Linked DNA regions of Homo sapiens: region 2 is linked to region 1. The links come from fine-mapping of genetic effects on gene expression. Tissue or cell type: subcutaneous fat. Region 1 holds a variant in brackets; the other region holds the start of a gene. All regions are shown on one strand. Distances are between the middles of the regions.

What was found. PIP is the estimated chance that this variant, and not a neighbour inherited with it, causes the effect.
Region 2: it holds the start of ZNF264, and the variant in region 1 is fine-mapped to the expression of ZNF264 in subcutaneous fat (GTEx, PIP above 0.99).

The regions. Positions count from the first base shown.
Region 1 is chr19:57,231,408-57,239,593 of GRCh38, forward strand. It overlaps AURKC (aurora kinase C), which reads left to right. Exons shown (of 7, transcript NM_001015878.2): 2 at 335-380; 3 at 626-817; 4 at 1,135-1,273; 5 at 2,053-2,201; 6 at 3,477-3,651; 7 at 3,840-4,141. The coding sequence ends at 4,010. Among named protein-coding and RNA genes, the nearest start is that of AURKC, 4.5 kb to the left of the region's middle. The variant A/G (reference allele first, on the strand shown) is at 3,024.
Region 2 is chr19:57,187,433-57,195,618 of GRCh38, forward strand. It overlaps ZNF264 (zinc finger protein 264), which reads left to right and starts at 4,068. Exons shown (of 4, transcript NM_003417.5): 1 at 4,068-4,514; 2 at 6,443-6,569. The coding sequence starts at 4,482. RefSeq lists enhancers at 3,904-3,963, 3,984-4,073, 4,084-4,143 and a silencer at 4,314-4,583.

The sequences.
Region 1 (8,186 bases):
TCCTCCCCAACGCTCTTCTTTTCTCCCCACTCCCTCCCTTCCCTCCAATTCTTTCTTTCACCTCTCCCTCCCCTACTCTCTCCTCCCCTTCCTTTCTCTCTGCCTCTTCTTCACCTCCTCCTCCCCTCCCTACCTTACCTTACTCTTTCTTCTTCCCCTTACCTCTCCCTCCCCCTCTCCCTGCCTTCCCCTTCCCTCTCTTTCTCTCCTCCCCTTCTTCCCCTCACCTCTCGCTCCCTATTCCCTTCTCTACTGTTCTCCTCTCCTCTCTTTCTCTCCCCTTCTCCTTCCCTCCCCTCTCCCTTCCTATCTCCCTCCTCCTCCTCTCTTTCAGTGGCTACAGCAAACCAAACAGCCCAGCAGCCCAGCAGCCCAGCCATGTGAGTCCCTTGGGATTGGTATCTGGAAAAGGAAGGAAGGTGGGACGTGGGGATGAAGAACAGACTGGGTGTGTGGGGTGCTGGCTCCTGGGAACGAGAACTACTGATAGGGCTGGGTCTGTGTGAGAAGGGAAAGCGGCAGAGGAAGGATACAATGAAAGAGGAAGGGGAGCATTGGCATCCCTGACTTTCCCTCCGCCTACCCTACCTCCCAAGCTGAGGCTTTTTTCTTCCTCTCCTGTCAGGCGGCGCCTCACAGTCGATGACTTTGAAATCGGGCGTCCCCTGGGCAAGGGGAAATTTGGGAATGTGTACCTGGCTCGGCTCAAGGAAAGCCATTTCATTGTGGCCCTGAAGGTTCTCTTCAAGTCGCAGATAGAGAAGGAAGGACTGGAGCACCAGCTGCGCCGGGAAATTGAGATCCAGGCTCATCTACAGTAAGGACAGTCTCTGCTTCCTCTTTCATCTTTGACGTCTGAGCCCAGCATTTTCCCCAAATACTAACCCCAAGTAAACCCTGCACTTGTACCTTGAAGACTTCTCTGCAGTTCATTCCATTTACACTACCTCCTACCCTGGGTCAGACACTCGAATCCTGGTTCCTGTTCTCCGTTCTCCCCTCACTTGCTCCCAGATAGGGCTGTTGTTATTCTGGTCCCAGCATAATTTGCCACTTGTGTGACCAGGCAGTGACGGTGGCATCATATGATAGGCCTCAGGGAGAAATCTGACTCTTCCAACATTAATCCTTCAGACACCCCAATATCCTGCGCCTGTATAACTATTTCCATGATGCACGCCGGGTGTACCTGATTCTGGAATATGCTCCAAGGGGTGAGCTCTACAAGGAGCTGCAGAAAAGCGAGAAATTAGATGAACAGCGCACAGCCACGGTGAGGTGCGGGTCTGGAGGCTCTGGGGTCTCTGAGTTTACTGTGGGCTGGTGGGAGCTCTGTTTGTGGCTGTCAGGAGGGTCCGCATTGCCTTCTGAGAAGTTTACTTCTGAATGTTATTGTGTAAATTTAATATAATGGCACGTATGTTCTACAGCTTTATCCTTGGATACCCTAATTAACCTCATTGTATCTCCAGAATATTAATAAGTACTGCGTATAGGTTTGGATTCTTTGGTTATAAGCAACAGAATCTAACTCCACTGCCTTATGTAAAGAAACATATTGAAAGGCTCTGAAGGAGTTCACTGAATAAATAGCTAGAACTGGCTTAGAGATAGGTACAAAGAGATTTCTAGAGGGTTCCGGAAAGGGAACCATGGCAATGATTTTCCCAGGAGCAATGGTCCAATCAGCTTGCTGTGTCAGGATGAGTGGTCTTCCATCTTTCCTCCTGTTTCTGTTTCACTTCCTCGGGCCTCAAGTCCTGTGAGAGATCATCTGAGTGGCTCAATGTAGGTTCTATGTCTGGCTACTTGCTGTGCTAGGACAACAGGGAGGATCTGTGTCCATGTTACCATCCATCCTATAAGACCACATAAAAAGGAGAGGAAAACCACACCCCACACACCAGTAACTGGTGCAATTTAAAAGGAGGAAATGGAGTTACTGGACCAAAAAGATTCCACTGTAATCATACAATTCATGGTAAGTGTTCCACCTCAGACGGAAATTGTGGCAGGCTTCACTTCCAGGGTGACTTTTCTTTGCACCCACAGATAATAGAGGAGTTGGCAGATGCCCTGACCTACTGCCATGACAAGAAAGTGATTCACAGAGATATTAAGCCAGAGAACCTGCTGCTGGGGTTCAGGGGTGAGGTGAAGATTGCAGATTTTGGCTGGTCTGTGCACACCCCCTCCCTGAGGTAGGTCAGGTGGTGGTGGTAGGGTGAGTTCTGAGTACCAGTTAGGAATGACCCAGTTTAATGTATTTCATGTGTCCATGTGTAAAACCTAGATACGAACTTGGGGTTTCTATTGGAATACTGCCTTTTTCTTTTCTTTTCTTTTCTTTTTTTTTTTGAGACAGAGTCTAACTCTTTCACCCAGGCTGGAGTGCAGGGGCACAATCTCGGCCTCCCAGGTTAAAGCGGTTCTACTGCCTCAGTCTCCCAAGTAGCTGGGATAACAGGCATGTGCCACCACACTCGGCTAATTTTTGTATTTTTAGTAGAGACAGGGTTTTGCTATGTTGGCCAGGCTAGTCTCGAACTCCTGACCTCAGGTGATCCGCCCACCTTGGCTTCCCAAAGTGCTGGGATTACAGGCGTCAGCCACCATGCCTGGCTGAACTACTGCCTTTTTCTTTTCTTTTTTTTTTTTTTTTTTTTTGAGACAGAGTTTTGCTCTTGTTGCCCAGGCTAGATTGCAATAGTGTGATCTCGGCTCACTGCAACCTCCCCCTCCCAGGTTCAAGCGATTCTCCTGCCTCAGCCTCCCAAGTAGCTGGGATTACAGGCATGGGCCATCACACCCGGCTGATTTTGTATTTTTAGTAAAGACGGGTTTCACCATGTTGGTCAGGCTGGTCTCCAACTCCTGACCTCAGGTAATCTGCCTGCCTCGGCCTCCCAAAGTGCTGGGATCATAGGCATGAGCCACGATGCCTGGCCAATGCTGCCATTTTCAAACACCTATACTTGATATGTATTCGTAGATTTAAATAATGTGGTCCAATCAAACCTTTT[A/G]TTTTCTGATCTTTGTTAATATATAACTATACCAGTAAGTTTGCATGTAAATAAAGTCATTGCTCCACAATTCCAAAGGAGTGCATTTTTCTGTATGAATGATTTTCATACAGAAATTTTCTTACCATAATTTATTTACTTGGCTCTCATTGATACACCATCAGTTTGTTCTAGATCTTTCTTAATGCTGAGAATATTCTTGTGAAAACATTCTGGAGCATGAGCTAAATCACTGTGTGAATAATTCCAAAATATGGATTTATTAATAGTAGGCCCCAGTACTTTTCTGAACCTTGATCCATATTAAAAATTTGTCTCTCCAAACTCCTGTGCTTGGGAGGGACTTTCCAGGGTGTCCTAGGGTCTCCACATCTCAATGAAAGCTGGGGAAGGAGAATTTCCCTCATCCTGGGCCTCTGCTTAGTACTTATTCCCTTTTCTGCCTTCCTCTAGGAGGAAGACAATGTGTGGGACACTGGACTACTTGCCGCCAGAAATGATTGAGGGGAGAACATATGATGAAAAGGTGGATTTGTGGTGCATTGGAGTGCTCTGCTATGAGCTGCTGGTGGGATATCCACCCTTTGAGAGCGCCTCCCACAGTGAGACTTACAGACGCATCCTCAAGGTGGGACAGTCACCTTTGGGCATTCATGGGGGAGCTGGTCAGTGATGGCTGCTGGGCTGTGGGCACACACACACACAGGGTTGTCTTCTGTGGTCCAGAACAGCGCCTTAACAAGGCTCAAAGAAGAGGGAGGACATTGATCAAAGAAATTAACCAGACTTCTCTTTCTTCTTTCCTGGCCTCATCAGGTAGATGTGAGGTTTCCACTATCAATGCCTCTGGGGGCCCGGGACTTGATTTCCAGGCTTCTCAGATACCAGCCCTTGGAGAGACTGCCCCTGGCCCAGATCCTGAAGCACCCCTGGGTTCAGGCCCACTCCCGAAGGGTGCTGCCTCCCTGTGCTCAGATGGCTTCCTGAGCCCTGTCTGCCTCTGTTCCCTTTGTGTGTGTTCAGGGAGCTCTCCTGGCTCTGCCACCTCATTTGTCTTTATTTTTTTCTCTTTTAAGATGTAAGATGCTAATTAATAAAAGCTGAATCATTTCATACCAGCTCTTCATAGTTGTGTGAGTTATTATGTGACTGGGTAGAATCTTTATTTCTTGTGGGAACTCTTTCCCATGAGAGCTGCCCAAGGTTGTTCTCCCTGCTACCCCCACCTTCCACCTCGGGAGATGGTGACTTCATTCTTCTGAAAACTCTTGCCTACTTTCAGGTCAGGCACGGTGGCTCACGCCTGTAATTCCAGCACTTTGGAAGGCCAAGGCAGGCGCAACACTTGAGTTCAGGAGTTCAAGGCCAGCCTGGCCAACATGGTAAAACCCTGTCTCTTCTAAAAATACAAAAATTAGCTGGGCGTTGTGGCGGGCACCTATAATCCCACCTACTTGTGAGGCTGAGACATGAGAATTGCTTGAACCTGGGAGGCAGAGGCTACAGTGAGCTGAGATCGTGCCATTGGAGTCCAGCATGGGAGACAGAGTGAGACACCGTCTCAAAAGAAAAGAAAGAAAACTCTTGTCTACTTTCTGCAGATAAATTCCCTGAGGGTACATAAACCTGCCACCTATCACAGTGGCTCCTTGATCCAACTTACTATTCTCCATGTTTTCAGGAGTATGCCATTTGTAAAACAGGACTGTCATCAACCCAAAGGTCCACTCTCTTTTTATGGACATCAATATGCTGCTGTCTCAGAAATAAAATGTTTCACTGCACGTCAGTGCAACCCACTTCTTAAGTGAATACACTAGCACCTCTGTGTTGTGTTGCACTCTGATGACATTAGAATAAGTCATTCCTCATAATAAATGTAATATCACCTCTTCTGAAATTACTGCATGCTGCAATTTGGGGAGTGGCCTTCCAGCCTTCTGTAACCTTCTGTGACAGCTTCATGTGGCAGCTGCTCCCTGCACCCATTATAAACTGACTACCACAGTAAGCATCTAGACTCCTCAGCTGTAAGCTCAAATGTTTTTTGATCAATGCAGTCAGTTACACCAGTATTTCTCCTAACTTTAGTTGTTAAGCACTTTATATGGAGTTTGCCTTGTTAATGTTACTCCTATCATTATATTCTACAAAGTCTCCTCATTGTGAAATATCCAGCAGTTGCAGGCATGATTTCTGCTATGACCAGACCCACTACGTAAGCATAAATAACTCAGCCACTTCACTTGGATGAAAAGCTCCCACTATTGCAGATCTATAAGTTAAATACTCCAAGACATTGGTTCATGGTTTTTAACCTGCACTTTCAGTATTTACCTCTTTTTTGTTTTTTCTTTCTTTTACCTGCATGGGGAGACACAGTGCTTACCTCTATATGCTTTGCTTCATCCTATCAGTTTTCCTGAATTAACATTTTAAACACTTGGCAATTCCTAATAAATTAACTGGTTCACACATATAAACTCTTACACATTTTAGGTGCTGGATAAACACATCACTGGGCACATTTTTGGCAGGTAAGGATAGAAAAATCACTAGGGCCTCAGCACTGATCACCAGATGATATATGTTTAAATAATGAAAACTCTGTCATGCTTTACATGAGGGATTTGAAAGTGTCCCCAGGCCGGGCGTAGTGGCTCACACCTGTAATCCCAGCAATTTGGGAGGCTGAGGCAGGCAGATAAACATGTGAGGTCAGGAGTTCGAGACCAGCCTGACCAACATGGTAAAAACCTGTCTTGACTGAAAAATACAAAAATTAGCTGGCCATGGTGGCTGTAATCCCAGCTACTTGCGAGGCTGAGGCACGAGAATCACTTGAACCTGGGAGGTGGAGGTTGCAGGGAGCCGACATTGCGCCACTGTACTCCAGCCTGGGCAACAAAGTGAGACTCTGTCTCAAAAAAAAAAAATTGTCACCAATATCTACATAGCTTTCTTCAGCAGCACTGATTCCAGACATTCCATGATGGAATATAAATATACTAACTTTAATATCTGTTCTGCATCCAAAGCGAAAACTAATTTAACCCTACGGGTCATACACATATGGAAAGGAGAATTATTCCTCTCTTCTAAATTGGGCAAATTAGTATTGTCAATGATGAGTAACAGTGTCAACAGCTTGCACGCTAATTAAGCAACATTTCTCAATAATCTCATTTTACAAATAATACCTTCTAGAAAATTGATTCCATCTACATTTCCACCCAGTTAACATCCTGTCATGATACTTTCTCCACTTTCAAATCTCTGGAGGGCATTTTCTGCACACCTTGTTTCCATTTTCATAACCATATGTATTGTCAAATCATTGAAAGCTGGATTTTATTCTCTAACCTTCATAGTCATGAGAAGAAAAAAAACAGTCACCAACGGAGACTACAAAGGTTTTGTATAATATGATTTTTTTTTTTTGAGACGGAATCTTGCTCTCTGGCCCGATCTCGGCCCACTGCCGTCTCCGCCTCCCAGATTCAAGCGAGTCTCCTGCCTCAGCCTCCCAAGTAGCTGGGATTACAGGAACCCGCCACCATGCCCAGCTAATTTTTGTATTTTTAGTAGAGACGGGGTTTCACCATGTTGGCCAGGCTGGTCTCAAACACCTGGCCTCAGCTGATCCACCCGCCTTTACCTCCCAAAGTGTTGGGATTACAGCCGTGAGCCACTGCACTCGGCCTGTATAATTCTTAAAAGATTGTTATGACCCTAACATGACTTTGTTGCTTTCTTGTTTGCAACCAGTTAGTTCAGGGTTGTCAAAAGGCCAAAATTACAACAAATTTAGTTTTAGATCTAATTGACTTTTGTTTGTGATTCATGAATTGAGGCAATCTCTGTTCTACACAATAGAAATTAGAGTTCCCACTGGGCAATGGCAGAACAGTGGGTTTTGTAAGGTGGGAACAATAAAATAGAACAATAGAAAAAAAAGCTGATTGGTTAACAGATTACTTTTTCTAAGGGTTAAAGCAGAGGGGACTTCCTAATTTCACTAATTCAGGTAGACTGAAATCTGCTTTTAGGAAAAACTGGGATCTGTCTGCTTCCTTAAAACTTCAGTTTGATTAGATGACATTTAGTATGAGAGACGCCATTTTGATTTGGTCAGTGAGGCCTGCTGTAGGAGCTCCAAAACAATGGCCTCCTGTAATTTTTGTTTAACAATGTTCACCTCTTTCCATTCCTTTCTCCATCTATGCTCATTTTTTTTCATGGTCTTGTCCAGTATCATAACTTGAAATAACAGTGTTTGCCAAAAACTTCCAGATTTTTATGTCCAGGCACAACTTCTCTCCCAATATTCAGTCAGAGATTGAACTGCTGTGACACAGACACTCTGTGGTCATACAGACATTTCAAACTGATCATGCTTAAAGTTGGAGTCATGAGCTCACCCAGTCCAAGACTCCCCACGTTAAGGAATGTCAAATCTACTCTACCAGGGCTCTCAGCCAATACCTAAAGCAAAAGTTGCTGGACCATGTGAAGACCAAGCTTGGCCAAAGAAGGCCCAAGAGAGACAATGCATTTGCAACATGTCCCAGCTGGACAGGGTCTTGCTCTATTGCCCAGACTGGAGTGCAGTGGTGCAATTACAGGTCATTGCAGCCTCGACCTCCTGGGCTCAAGAGATCCTCCCATCTCAGCCTCCTGAGTAACTGGAATTACAGGGGTGTGCCACAATGCTCAGCTAATTAAAAATTTTTTTTGAGTAGGCTGGATGCTGTGGCTCATGCCTGTAATCCCAGCACTTTGGGAGGCCAAGGTGAGTGGATCACTTGAGCACAGGAGTTCAAGACCAGCCTGGGCAGCATGGTGAAACTGACTACAAAAACTACAAAACAAAACAAAAAAACCCTCAATTTGCTGGGCGTGGTGGTGCGTGCCTGCAGTCCCAGCTACTTGGGTGGCTGAGGTGGGAGGATCACTTGAACCCTGGAGTTTGAGGCTGCAGTGAGCTGTGATCGCGCCACTGCACTATGGCCTGAGCAACAGAGCGAGACCCTGTCTCAAAAAATATATATATAAATATATATATAAATATATATGTGCATATATATACGTATATATACATATGTATATATACGTATATATGTATATATGTATATATAAATATATGTATATATAAGTAGAGAG
Region 2 (8,186 bases), 44 kb before region 1:
GCTGGGATTACAGGCATGAGCCACCGCACACCACCCCCATTTCTTGCAGTAAAATATGTGTGTGTGTGTGCGCGTGTGCGCGCGTGTGTATTCCATTTCTCCCTAATACCATTTCTCAGCTGCATGAATCCTTAACTCATGAAAGATACTTTTTATCCTCTTGACTCTACAGTTAATGGAAAATAAAAATCATCAATAGTGACTTCTAAGATTGCTTAATATACCTTTCTGGGAGGACAGTTAGAACTCCTAATGTGAGCTTGTCAGTTTCTTGTGAAAACCAACCCAGTTGTCCCATAGAACTGATGTTTGTGGTTTCTTTTGACTGAACCTAGAAATTGACCCTCCCACTCTTAAAACTTGAGAAAAGTACATTTGTCATAATCGTTTGTCACAGAAATAACCAAATTTCCTTGTCCATTGTTTTTTAACTATGGTTGTCCTAAGACTTTTGTCATCCACAATTATTGTTTGACTTTGAGTCTTCTCCAAAGGTGGCTTACAGTCAGCTACAGTTCAGGGCTTCTTTGAGAGAGTTCATAAAAAGAACACTTGAATTCAAGTTTCTGGTAACTTTGGAGATTGTCCTATCAGCCTAGAGAGAAAACTTCCAGGACTCTAATTAGAAGGCTGATATATTCATAAAATACATAATTATGTATACATATGTTTATGCAATATGAAGCAGAGCAGGAGTTTCATGGACTGTACTAATTTATTTCATGATAAATAAAAATATTTTATTATATAGTATATTAAGCCATCTTAGAAGTCACTGTTGATGATTTTTTTTTCTCCATTAACTGTGGAGCCAAGAGGGTAAAAAGTATCTTTCATGAGTTAAGGATTCATGCAGTTGAGAAATGGAATTAGGGAGAAATGGAACACACACACACAAACACAGAGATTTATTTCAAGTACTGAATTTATTTTATTATTTTTTGTGTGTGTTTGAAACATTGCTGATTCTTTTTGTTTTGTTTTTGAGTCAGGAGAACTTTTTTTGTAAATCTACTTTCTGTCTCTATGAAACTTTTTTCTTTCCAGCTATTTATAGCCTTTAACAATTGAATATACATTTGTAAACAAAATTTGAGGGCTATTTCTCTCTCTGCCTGATTTCTCCAGAATTCAGAAACTATTTGTGAATATTCTTAATTCACGGCAATGTGGTTGTTTGCATATGTTCAATAAGAATCTGTTTTCTAGCTAGGTGTAGCATATGTTCAATAAGAATCTGTTTTCTAGCTACTTGGGAGGCTGAGGCAGGAGGATCGCTTGAGCCCAGGAGTTTGAGGCTGTAGTGAGCTATGATCGTGCCACTACACTCCAGTCTGGGTAAACAAGCAAGACCCTATCTCTATTTTTTAAAATCCATATTATTTTATAACACAATTGTAGGCACTGGGTCTTTTCCCAAGGCTTTGACAGGAATGGCATATTTTTAACTATGCGAGACTGCTTTGAGGAATTAAGACTGACTTTATGGGCCAGGCGTGGTGGATCATGACTGTAATCCCAGCACTTTGGGAGGCCAAGGCGGGTGGATCACGAGGTCAGGAGATCGAGACCATCCTGGCTAACATGGTGAAACCCCATCTCTACTAAAAATATAAAAAATTAGCCGGGTGTGGTGGCAGGCGCCTGTAGTCCCAGCTACTCAGGAGGCTGAGGCAGGAGAATGGCGCGAACCCAGAAGGCAGAGCTTGCAGTGAGCTGACATCACGCCACTGCACTCCAGCCTGGGCGGCAGAGCAAGACTGTGTCTCAAAAAAAAAAAAAAAAAAAAAAAAAAAGACTGACTTTATGGAGCTGATGGGAGCCCTTGGAAGGACTGGCCTCATATCTTGTGCACACAGTTCCTTTGTGGGGTTCCTGGCCTGTAGTAAATACAGTGTCATTTTCTGATAGGCCTAGGAACCTCAAGATGTTCTGGGGCCTCAAGAAAAACGGGTTTCACCCAATTCATGCAGGTATGTACAGGTGCAGACAGATCTTTGGCTGGGCTTAAGAGGTCTTTGGGTGTTGAGTCTGAGAGATTCCTTATGAGGGGTTCCAGCAAAGCCAATTTAGGAGGAATTGTATAAACAGTGATTCTTGCTGTAGTTTGGATAAGTATGGTGGGACTGAAGCTTGTTTTGCAGGTAAGTTGTTCCTGCTGTGATTTGCTTTTGATGGAAGTCAGGGACTAGAGAGAGAAAAACTGTTTCCAAAGAAAACTATAGTGCTGCCAGGTGCAGTGGCTCAACTTTGGGAGGCTGAGGTGGGCGGATCATGAGGTCAGGAGTTTGAGACCAGCCTGGCCAACATGGTGAAACCCCGTCTCTACTAAAAATACAAAAATTAGCCAGGCATGGTGGTGGGCACCTGTAATCCCAGCTACTCGGGAAGCTGAGGCAGGAGGATCGCTTGAACCTAGGAGGCAGAGGTTGCAGTGAGCGGAGATCGTGCCACTGCACTCCAGCCTAGGTGAAAGAACAAAACTCTGTCTCAAAAAAAAAAAAGAAAGAAAGAAAGAAAACTATAGCGTTAGATTAACCTTTGAGTTAATCTGAGTGGCCACGTGGTCATCTATGGTATGCAGCCACCCACAATACCCCTCCTCAGCATAAAGCAGCCAGAAAGATCACGTCCAGATTCCCCATGATTGAGGAATTGATAAATAGAAACAGGGAACTGAAACCAGCTCCAGTGTCCCATAGAACTGATATTTATGGTTTCTTTTGAATCAACACATTATAGACATTGAGCCTCCCCTTCCTAAAACTCGAGACACTTTTATTTGTCTTATCTGATTTCCTTTCTCAGGAAACCAAGCATCAGGCCTCCCAGATAGTATAAAGAAACTGAAACTTACTGGATTACCACATCTGGAAAAACGAGATGCTATACCCCTTACCCATGATGATTGCCTAACTGACCATCTGCTGCCTGTTGACCCATTCCTCTTCCTTACCCCTTCCTAATTCCTGTTTTCTCAAACATAGTTACACTTCTTCCCTGATGTATAAACCCCTAGTTTTAGTCAGTTGAGGAAAGAGATTTGAGATTGATCTCCCATTTTCCTCAGCTGCAGCACCGAATAAAGCCTTCATCCCTGACAATACTCATTGTCTTGCTGACTGGCCTTCTGTGCAGCAAGCAGCAGGATCTAGATGCAAGGACCTGGCCTTTCTGGTAATATTGTCATCAACCATTTAATGATGTAGACTTGGTCCCCGGCTCATGCTCTGTGTATTTTCTTCTCCATCTACATGCATTGCCTTGATGGTCTCACTCAATATCATGACTTGAAATAACAGTGTAAGGTAACTCCTAAATTCATATATTCATGCTCAAACCTTCTTCCAACATTCAGTCGTAAGTCGAATTGCCTGTGACAGAGATACTTTGTGGTTCTGTAGACATTTCAAACTAACCATCCTGAGCCTCCGAACCTCCTCCACTTGCAGCCTCCCCACCTCAGAAGTGGGCAAATCCACTTTTTGTGTGGTCTGGGCCAAATACATGACTCCCTGCATCACGTAGAGGCTGTGCTGGTCCAAAGAAGGCTCAAAAGAGGGCAGTTTGCGCACACAACGTGTCGGGGCAGGGCTTCCAGATGATCATTCGGCTTTTTTGTGTCTTCCAAGATGATGATCCGGGGAGGAGGGATGTGAAAGGGGGTCAGTCGCCAGGCGAGCTGAGGACCCAGTTCTGCGCCTTTGCCTGTGCCCTGACCTGAAGGAAAGTCCCTGTCTCCCGAGCTCCGATTTTCCCGAGAGAAGAATGCAATGTAACCCTTGCCCCTCGGTTCCCTCCCTCCATCCTTCCCCTCGAGTTGTGCCCACCGTAAAGAGGTGGGTCTGGAGCGTCTCCTCGGGTCCTGGAGTGCCTTTCCCTGGGAGGAAAACTTGCGCCGTGAAGCGTTCCTCCCGTTGTTGAACACATGAGGAAAACTACACTACTTAGAAGGCTGTGCATTATGCGTACGGCGGGAGCTGGGCCAACGACGGCCTAGGACGGGGACGTTTCCGACGGCTCACGCCGGTGGGGGCGGGACTTCCGGGTTGCTCGCTGCGGACGCCATTTTCTTCTGCACTTCTGTCTGGAGAGGTCTGTAGCCACTGAGGGCCCCGGTCGGGGCCGCTTTGCAGGTCCCTAGTCAGGACCGAGCAGGGGAGTAGGATAGGAATCCCCGCCGCACCTTTGTACGAGCCTGACCCCTTCCGTGGGTTTGTTCCTGGGTCGCCGTCAAGCTGCGGTCTCTCCTCCCCCGCCCTTCAGCCCCGCGGTCTCCAGGGGCGGCGCCCTGGGTCTGGAACGCGGTTGCCACCGAGGAGGCGGCGGCCCTGCGTCTGGAACGCCGTTGCCACCGAGGAGGCGGCGGCCCCGAGCGCGCCTGGAAGCCCCGGGCAACCGGCCAGGGTCGGGCACAGGTGGGGTCCGTCAGGCCGCCCGGGGCTCCTCTGTCCCAGCTCTGCGGCCCAGGGGGTGACGTGATGGCGGCAGCGGTGCTGACGGACCGGGCCCAGGTGAGTGGACGGTGGCTTCGCGGTTGCCGCTTCCTTGCCAGCGCTGAGGCGGTTTCCGAAGTGGGTGGGAGCCCAGGTATCCCCTGGATTTGTCTTCGCAGTCGTCGTTCGCTTTGGTGTGTGGAGCTGGTTTGCCACTTAATTTATACCTGGCCGTAAGGAGTGTTGGGCCTACTGGAAGGAGCTCCGTAGGTTGTTGAGTGAATGATGCTTCCTCTGGGGACTCCCATCATCCTTGGCCTGCAAGCATTCTCTGGTGGACCAGGTCTCATTCCAGCATGAATTGGGGGCCTGAGGGGGGAAGGGGAGGGCAGGGCAGTAGCAAGCCGACAAATGCGCGAGCAGAGACAAGGTATGTTGTATGTTTAAGGAGGCTCAGGAGGGTGTGTAAGGTTGCCATGGTTTTCCTGCGGCCGCTGAGACGTGGAGGGCAACAGTGTGTGGTCTTTTCCTGGATGTTCTAGCCATCCGCAACTACTGCAGACATTGTGGCCAGTCAGATGCCCTTACTCTCATCGCTACAGCCTGCATTATCCTTGGCCGCTCGTGTTCCGTGGCCCCAAAGTATCCTGGCGTCAGAGACAAGTTCTGTCGGAACCCAGTAAGGAAAGAGGCCGATGGTTGGTTCATTGTGGAATTTCCTTGGGGGATCTGGGAGACCCAGGGAGATCCCAGAGGGCATGGGAAGCTGGTCTGGAGCCTGTCGTTCCCCAAGTAGATGCAGCCCTTCCAGTGCCGCTCTGTGGGGTCAGTGAGGAATGCTGAGCTTTTTGTGCCCGTGTTCACATACTTTTTTTTGTTTTGAGACAGGGTCTCACTCTGTCGCCCAGGCTGGAGTACAGTGGTGCACTCTCAGCTCACTGCAGTCTCTGCCTCCCAGGTTCAAGCAATTCTCCTGCCCCAGCCTGCCGAGTAGTTGGGATTACAGGCATGCACTACCACACCTGACTGATTTTTGTATTTTAGTAGAGACTGGGTTTCACCATATTTGCCAGGCTGGTCTTCAACTCCTGGCCTCAAGCGATCCGCCCACCTCGACCTCCCAAAGTGCTGGGATTACATGCATGAGCCACCATGCCCGGCCCACAGATACGTTTTTCAGGGCTAATTGAAATAGACTTAATGTTAGAAATGAGTGGAAATGCTTATAACTTCATCGCATTAGATTTGCTTTGATGTTGGGGGAGTGTTGGAGTTACACTGTTAGACCGTGAATCATAGTAACCCCATGTTTAGATCCTATCTATGGTGGTGAGATGTGTGACTGGGTGAATTGATAGCGCTTCCTTAGCATGAAGTCATTGACTGTGAAGGTGATGATGGTGTTGACTGCAGGGACTGTGAAAGGATTAATAAAAATCCCAGAGCACACTGAGCATTGAATACTTTAAATTTAACAACTGTTACTGGTGGGAAGTGTTATTGTATTGATCCAGAAATCAAGGCTCAGAGAAATGAAATGCTGTCTTTGAGGTAAGAGCTGTCAAGTGTCAGTTTCAAGTGTTTGGAGCTAGGAACTTCTAGTCACTGTGTTTACACAGGATGTGAAGCCTTCAACATGGGGCAGGCACCTAGCTGGACCAGTGAGACTCAGGTACTGCCGTTGTAACCATTATTGCTATTATTACCATTTCCCCATTTCCCTGTCGTTTTAGAGCCCTTAGCTTCTGTATTTCACAGTCCACAAGTTGTTTCCGTTGTCCTGTGTCATTCTCTAACGGCCGTTAAATAGGAGGCTTCTCTCCTTTACTCTGGTATTATGTTAAAAGCATCTATCTTCCCTCTTGAGCCCAGCACAGAGCTAGGCCCTCAGGAGGTGCTCTGTGATTCAGGCCGCCATCACTGTACACCTTTTCCAGTGGAGCACAGTCTGTGATCTCATTCAGCAGCTGAAAGGCCAATACTACTAATTCTGTTTGACTTTCCAGGTGTCTGTGACCTTTGATGATGTGGCTGTGACTTTCACCAAGGAGGAGTGGGGGCAGCTGGACCTAGCTCAGCGGACCCTGTACCAGGAGGTGATGCTGGAAAACTGTGGGCTCCTGGTGTCTCTGGGTAAGGCCTTCCTTCCCCCTCCACCATGCAGGTGACCTGCCACTTCCTTCATTCCATCTTCTGACTCCAGGCCTGGCTGCACAAGAAGGCCTCTAGAATCTACCTTGCCTCTTTCCCACAGCTTTAGTCATTTTCCACAGTAACCTCTTCCTATCTGGTCTCCTATATCTCTGGGCTAAAGACAGGGTACTCTTTGGCTCCCAGCCAAAGGAGAAGGTGGTAAAAGGAAATGGGGTGTTTTGCAAACTCAAAGGTAATTTTCAGCTGTGCCTCATGAGGGGCTGGTGTAGGAACTGAGAACCACCACGATGGTGTCCTGGCTTCTCTGTCTGGGTCTGCTCATGTCACGTCTATTCTCTATGGCTTTTTCTGCCTTAGTGAGTTCAAGACAAGAGTGGCCACCTGGATTAGGGTTCTCTAAAGGGACAGAACTAATAGAATAGATATATATAAAAAGGACAGTTTATTAAGTAGTAATAACTCATGATTACAAGGTCCCACAGTAGGCTGTCTGCAAGCTGAGGAGCAAGGAAGCCAGTCCAAGTCCCAAAGCTGAAGAACTTGGTGTCCAATGTTCGAGGGCAGGAAGCATCCAGCATGGGAGAAAGATGTAGGCTGGTAGTCTAGGCCAGTCTAGTCTTTTCATGTATTTCTGCCTACTTTATATGCTGGCCTCGCTGGCAGCTGATTAGATGGTGCCCACCCAGATTAAGGGGGGGGTCTGCCTTTCCCAGCCCACTGACTCAAATGTTGATCTCTTTTGGCAGCACCTTTACAGACACACCCAGGATCAATACGTTGCATCCTTCAATCCAATCAAGTTGACACATTAATAAAAATCCCAGAGCACACTGAGCATTGAATACTTTCTCTTTAAATTTAACGACTGTTACTGGTGGGAAGTATTATTGTATTGATCCAGAAATAAAGGCTCAGAGAAATGAAATGATGTTTTTGAGGTAACAGCTGTCAAGTGTCCGTTTCAAGTGTTTGGAGCTAGGGACTTCTGGTGACTGTGTTAACACAGGATGGGAAGCCTTCAACATGGGCCAGGCACCTAGCTGGACCTAGCTGTTAACCATCACAACTCCATCCCTTGTCAACTTGAACCCATACACATCTCCTGAGATCATACATAATCTTCAAATAAAGACAATAAGGTCATAATTATGCTTAACATAATACAAGTATCGTTCATGCAACCGAAACACACTAATCCCCAACCCAAGTGCTATTACATAAAGGTAGCAATACTTAAATGCTGATATGAAGTCAGTAAATCTTACGTCACATGATAAAGGAAATAAAATGCAGATGTTTTCTTAGTACAAGTGTATACATCACAAACATGTTTTTAATAAAAGAAGGAGGAAATACAACAATTACAGTCCTCATTTCTGCAACTGGTCACTTGGTCGTAGTTGGTATTAATGACTACCTTCTTCTCCTGCACATTCTGTATTCACTTTGCCTTCAGCAAGCACCTCAGCAGGTCATGGTTTTTTTTCCTGGTGGAGTGACCCAAACCTTCATTCCTGAAGGGTCTGGGCCATTTGTAGTCCTGCCTGGATTGGGCTGTTGTAGCTTCCCATTGACCTTAATCACAGGGCATGGTAA